Linked DNA regions of Homo sapiens. The protein of the gene in region 2 interacts with the protein of the main gene of each other region in a pairwise test. Each region holds a gene or a part of one and is shown on either strand. Other genes may lie near its edges.

Evidence for each region.
Region 1: the proteins of NAA25 (region 2) and FTCD interact in a two-hybrid assay, tested with the Homo sapiens proteins (one large-scale study listed by BioGRID and IntAct).

The regions. Positions count from the first base shown.
Region 1 is NC_000021.9:46,145,380-46,149,199, forward strand, and holds part of FTCD (formimidoyltransferase-cyclodeaminase), read right to left. Parts: intron 949-3,820; coding exon 887-948; intron 569-886; coding exon 439-568; intron 200-438; coding exon 38-199; intron 1-37.
Region 2 is NC_000012.12:112,026,006-112,028,920, forward strand, and holds the end of NAA25 (N-alpha-acetyltransferase 25, NatB auxiliary subunit), read right to left. Parts: 3' UTR 684-2,915; downstream 1-683. UniProt on the Homo sapiens protein: Non-catalytic subunit of the NatB complex which catalyzes acetylation of the N-terminal methionine residues of peptides beginning with Met-Asp, Met-Glu, Met-Asn and Met-Gln. May play a role in normal cell-cycle progression.

The DNA.
Region 1 (3,820 bases), on a different chromosome or scaffold from region 2:
GTGGGGCCCGGGGAGCCCTGCTGTGGCCGCCACTCACCAGGTAGGCGGTGAAGGCCTCGGCGTCGGCATCCACCAGCGTGGTTAGCTTGGCCGAAGCCTCGCGGAAGGGCGGGATCAGGCGCCGCATCGTCGTGTCCAGGGACTGGAATTGGCGCCGCCCGTAGGTCATGAGGCCCACCATGGAGCCCAGCGCCGCACCCTGCGAGAGGGGTGGATGTGGGGGTCGCAGGGACCCCAGACGGCCCGGGACCGACCCCAGGAAGAGCCAGGGGCCCGGGTGATCCCTGCGGGGGTCCCACCCGTGTGGCCCCCACGTCTCCACCCAGGGCGGCCCCACCGCGCCCTCCCCACCCCGTGCCCTCCCCCCAACAGCGCCCTTCCCCCTCCCCGCCCTCCCCCCAACAACTGCGCCTCCCCTGCCCCTCCCCCCGCGCTCACCATGGCCGCAGCGGCCGCCGCCACCGAGCCGCCCCCGGGGGCCGCAGAGCGGGCACCCACCTCCCCCACGAAGGCGCGCAGGGACTTGCTGCCCAGGCCTCGCTCAGGCCCGCGCTCAGGGACCAGGTACCTGCAGGGTGGGCGCGGCTCAGCGGGTCTGGCCGGGGTTGGTGGGGGGAGCGCAGTCCTCCCGGGGCGGCCCCAGGCCCCACGCCCGTCTGCACCCACGGGGAGGTGACCACTCGGCTGAGAACCTGCGGGGACCCGGCCGGGGTCTCTGTGCCCCCCTCAGCCCCCAGACCCCGGCTTGGCGCAGGCCGAGTAGGCGCCCAAAGGGAGGCGCTGGGAGGACTCAGCCGGGTCTCCACGCAGGGACCCCAGCGCCCCGCAAGGCCCGAGAGGCAGAGCCCGGGAGGGGTGAGAAGAGGGCGGGAGGGCAGAGGCTCACTCGATGATCCGCTCCTTAGGGCTGAAGGGGCACAGGGAGTCCAGGCCCAGCCGGCTCACCACCTGGAAAAGGGGCTTGGAGTGGAAACGGCCTCGGCGCGTCTCCACCACCAGGAAAGCCTCGGAACCCGCGGGTCCCACCCTTGCGGCAGCCGCCCCCTGCCCCGAGCACACAGGTGCTTTTGCGGGGAGCAGGGCAGGGGCGTGGCTGGCACCCCCCACCTCTGCCCCGCCAGGAGCCCTGTGGGCCCCGCCCCAGCAGGCACCCCGTACAGGCTTCTGGAAACAGCCATCACCCTGAGTTGCCCTTGGGGAACCTGAGGCCCAGAGAAAGGAGTTGCCCCCTGGGGACCCCTCAGCAAACTGCTGCTCATGCTTCGCCGCCCCCCAGCACCACTGCCCCATCGCTGACGGGCGGGAAAGATTTTAATTCACCAAGTCTTCACATCTAACAAGTCCTCAAAAGCTGAGGAACAGCCCCAAGTCACCCACACATAAACTTGTATGCCACAAAAGTGAGTTTTACCTAAATTCAAAATAAAGTTGTGACAGTCCCATTTAAGATTAGAATTCATTCTGGGAAACCCATTCAGAACACGTTGGCTATGCGACCCCCACCCCACCCCACAGAGACGGACAGCAGCCGGGCGGGGTGGAGAGTGCCTCCCCGTGGCATAGAACCAGCAAGCCACAAGGCAAAGCCTCCTTCCGCAGAAAACCCCAGGAAGATGCCGGGCATTTTAAAGGCCTGGCTAAGCTAGCAGACAGGACATCATTCGAAACCAGACACGACCAGAAAGACGAGTCCGGAAAGGCCTGCCAGCCTGGAGCTGGGTCTGCCCTGGGGGCAACTGCCCCTCTCTGGCAGCCCCTGATGAGTGGGGGAGGTCTGGGGCCTTCAGAGTGGGGTCCGACTGGAGACCCCTGGAAGGTGACACCCCCAAGGATGAATTAGAAACAGCCACCCGCCAGAGGAAACAGTTGAGGTACTTCCCAGTCCCTGCCTTCCCTTTGGGTGAAGCAGGAAAAAAAAAAAAATCTCCTGGGAATTCCTAATCACAAGCCACCCTGACAGGGCTGCAGGCCTCACCCGACACCGAATTCACTCTTGTGTGGTTCCAGAACTCCAAGCCAAAAACTCAGCTTCAGGGGGTCCTGTGAGGCAGTGTCCACAAGCGCCAGCACAAACCCTCCTTGGAGGAGAAAACTTTGAACCCAGGTGTCCAAGAATTACCATAGATAAAATTCCACAGAGCATGCACTGGCAATCAAAAATCACACAACACAAAGCAAAGCAGCCTCACCACAAGGAGGCAGCACGCAGCCACGGGCACAGCCAGACCTGTGCAGGCCGCAGGCATGGGGCCCTTCAGGTAAAGAAGACAAAACCCCAGCCAGTCACGGTGGCTCACGCCTGTAATCCCAGTGCTTTGGGAGGCTGAGGCGGACGGATCACGAGGTCAGGAGTTCAAGACCAGCCTGGCCAAGATGGTGAAACCCCGTCTCTACTAAAAAAAAAAAATACAAAAATTAGCCAAGTGCGGTGGCACACGCCTGTAATCCCAGCTACTCGAGAGGCTGAGGCAGAGAACTGCTTCAATCCGGGAGGTGGAGGTTGCAGTGAGCCGAGATCACACCACTGCACTCCGGCCTGGGTGACAAAGTGAGGCTCCATCTCAAAAAAAAAAAAAAAAAAGAAGAAGACAAAACGCCACACTGGAAAGCAGACGGGGCCTCACACATAAGAAGACAAGGAAATGTGGAGAAGCGACAGCTGCTGCTTAGACAGAAAGGATGACGTTGGAATGCTGTCACTGGCTCCTAAAACTCTGGAATTTCAGTAATAAACAGGTATTTACCTACTCAATACTTTAAACACCTTCAAGTACTCCCCACAACGTATTAATTGCAAAAGGAAAAATAGTAACATTGCAGTGAAGGGTCCAGGAGGAAGGGGGTCGCCTTGGCAAGTGACGGGTCCACGTCGGCACCCTGAGAAAATGAGCATCATGGGGAGTCGGCGTCTCTGAGGAGGACACAATACCATCTATGCTTTTCCTGCCAAAAATGCGTAACTGGCTGGGCGTGTTGGTGCACACCTGTCGTCCCAACACTTTTAGGAGGCTGACGTGAGTGGATTGCTTGAGTCCAGGAGTTTGAGACCAGCCTGGGCAATAGAGCAAAACCCCATCTGTACAAAATTAGCCAGGACTACATAGTGGTCCTTGCCTGTAATCCCAGCACTTTGAGAGGCTGAGGTGGGAAGATCACCTGAGCCCTGGAGTTTGGGGCTGCAGTGAGCTGTGATTGTGCCACTGCACTCCAGCCTGGGTGACAGAGCAAGACCCTGTCTCAAAAGAAGTAACAAATTAAATTAAAATAAAAATGCACAACTACATCTGGCCACAAGCAACATCAGACTAGTCCCCACTGAGGCGCTTTTAAAAGTCTGTCCTTTGAAACTATGTCAAGGTCAATGAAGGACAAGGAAGACAGGAACAGTTGGAAGAAAGGAGAAAAGGTTGGCTCAGTGCTCTGTGTTACGTGAACTGGATCACGGATTGGAGGAGAAATCGCTATGATGGGAATCACTGGGACACTGAAGCAATTTGATTATGGCCTGAGGATTATTAGATACTAGGATTGTATCAGTGTTGAATTTCCTGATTTTGATAATTACACTGTGGTTATGTAAGAGAATGTCCCTGTTCTTAAGAAACACAGCCTTAATAAATTAGGGGTAAAAGAGTACAATGTCTTCAACCCAACTTTTAAATAGTCCGGAAAAAAATATAATATGATTATACACAAATAAATGGGGCAAAATGCAAGCACTTGGAAAATATGGGTGGGAGGCAGGAGTGGAGGGCCACCTGTATCTTCTCTGTAAGAAATTATACAAAATGTAAAGTCACAAAAAATTTTGTTAACAGCC
Region 2 (2,915 bases):
TGCCTGAAATCCTCTGGTAACTTCCCACTAAATTTAGAATAAAATCTCATTCCTTCCCCGGACTACTAAGTCCTGATGGCTCTCATCCCTACTCAACTTTCTATCTCAATCCTACCCCTTTCATTAAGTCCCAGCCACTTGAACATTTTTTCACTTCCTGGAACCGGCTCAGCAGTTTCCTGCCTTGGGGCATTTGCATGTGTGTTACTTTTTTCCTGACAGTTCATCATTCAGATCAGAGGTCACCACTTAGGAGGTCCTCCTGTGACCCATTCTGAAGTGACCCTCTAGACACACTCAATTCACATACTGTGATTTACATTATTAAGCAGGATGTAATTACAAACTAATATTTTTATTGCCTCTTCCCCACCTCACAGCCACTAACTAGGATATATGTTACTCACTTACTAACTAGGACACAGGGTCTCACCAGAGCCTAAAGTGGAATCTGCTATATGCTAATTTAAGTGTTCAATACATATATGTTGAATTAATAACTGCAAGTACAGAAGGTACTAACTTTTGAGTCAAAAGGACTAGCTGACTTCAAATAAAAATTCTAAATTCTCAAATATTAAAAATATGTTGGGATATAGCCCTAAATTCACAACTGAGATGAATTACACCATTCAGAAGGTTGTGGCTTCTAAGAATCTGAACAAAAAGGAACCAGGCAGAAATGCCAACTTAAAATGAAAATGTTTATATAAATTAACCCATCCAGTTTAAAGTAGATTTGCTATGCTTCACTTACTTAAGGAAGAATATATACTTCCTATATTAATAAATCACATCAAATAAGTAGGAAGTTTCAATAACAAGCCTGTAGATACATTGAAACCCCTTTTTATATTAAAAGTTAAAATGAAAGACAAATCCAGATTGAACATAGTGATTGCAAAATATAATGCAATTTTCAACAATTAAAATTATGAAAATATACAAAATTGATGGGCAACACAACTAGGCATTTGTACATTTTCCATTATGTGGAGAACACTACAAGTTTCTCTACCTTTTATCTACATCAGATAAATGATTTAAACCAAATGTTTGCTTTGGAGAGTCTTAACTTAGGATCTCAGTAGTATAAAAAGCAATAATTTTTCAGTCTGTAAACAGTAGTCGTGATTTTTCTCCTTTCCTTTTTTAAATATCAGTTTACCACACAAAAACAAACAAAACAAAAAAACCCATACAAATCAAAAACAGCAGCAGCAGCAATGGGTTATTTGGGAATTCTCTTCAAATACCAATGGCATACGATTGCTGGGAGAGGGTGCTTTTTACTCATGTAAGAATATATATATATATATATTTTTTTAACTGTACACAATTTATAGTACATGAGGGTTTCCAAAAGAACAGATTGATAAGAGATATTGGCCATTTCTGCATAATTTCATTCTTTTTACAATTATCTCAAAATGTGAAAGCTGGATCTAATTGAAATGCTACATTTAGTAGGAAAATCAGCAAATAACAAAGGAAGCATAACCTCAACATAACATTATTTGTCATTAAAGCCAGTAGAGGTCCCAGATATCTTTAGGCAAGAGACTGGTTAGGAAGACCACTAGAGTCACACACTGTCCCTGAGGACCAAGGCTAGCCCACTGAACATACATATGCTAGATTGATCATGGTCAGTCGATAGACTTTTTCAAAGAGCATTTCTACAGTACAGTACTTTTTTGGATATTCAGAGAGACATCATTTCAAGAACACACGCCATACACATGTACCCCACCCTCCCCAGCAGACACACACAAAGTTCCATCTTAAACAGGCCATAGTTTTATGAAAGAATATGTTGTCATTACATGAAATTCAGAATTAACCACAATTTTCCATTCATCTTGTTCAAGACAGTTCTTCCTTTTGGGATAGGGTATATGACCAGCTGTTGCTACTCATATCAAAAATAAATTTTTGAAATTAGTTGATGGACTAGGATTTCCAACAAGCCTTATTTTGAACAGGTAATGTAGTAATTGTTTAAAATTTCCTTGGAAGTTTAAGCACTGTATCAAATTATGAATCTAAGAAAGTCAAAATGAAGGGACAAAATGCAATTACTTTGCGTACACAGATATTCCCAGCTCTCTTGGTTGCTTTTAAAAGAAAAAAGTACCACATTTCACTGGAGCAGTGCAGGTTGGAAAGCACCTTTAAGGTCTTCAAGACCAATCCTCCATTGGATGCTTAATTTCCTCATCAAATTCATTTCTTTGCTCTTACAGAATTAAACTTGAACTATATTTAGGTAACAGACCAAAAACAGAAGCAGGGATTTAAACAGAAAAATATTATCAAAGAAACTGCATAAATTGTAGGACATTTTCAAGAGCAATTTTTACCTCTTCTATCAGACCAACCACTGATAGAAGAAGCTAGAGTCTTGGGGACATCCAGGTGAACAAAGTAAACACCATCCTGTTATAATTCTCTAAGTTTGAAGAAAGTAGTCCAAACCTCAAACCCACTGAATAACATTTCTTTTGCCAGCCTAAAACTTAAAGCCTAAGGCTAAATCCATAATATTACATTCCTTCCTTCCCAAACCCCCCACACTTAAAACATTAAAGTATTAAATCTTAATTTTCAAGTCATATATATATGTGTATATATATATATGTATATATATGACTCACAAAACCAATGAAATAAGTATCATACTTGCCTGCATAAATTATGTGCACCTCTCTTCTTTGAAACAGTCATTCCTATCTTTCCCAAATGTATGAAAGACAGAAAGCTAGTCCTCAGCGGGCTTAATAAGTGGTCTGCACTGCTTTCCCCTCTAAACAGCTATAAATTAACAGAGCCTTCCTTGCCTTCTTACCTGAGATTTTTAACTCTCACAGAAGCTAGGATGGGGATGTCTTAACTATCAGACAAAAACTAGCCAA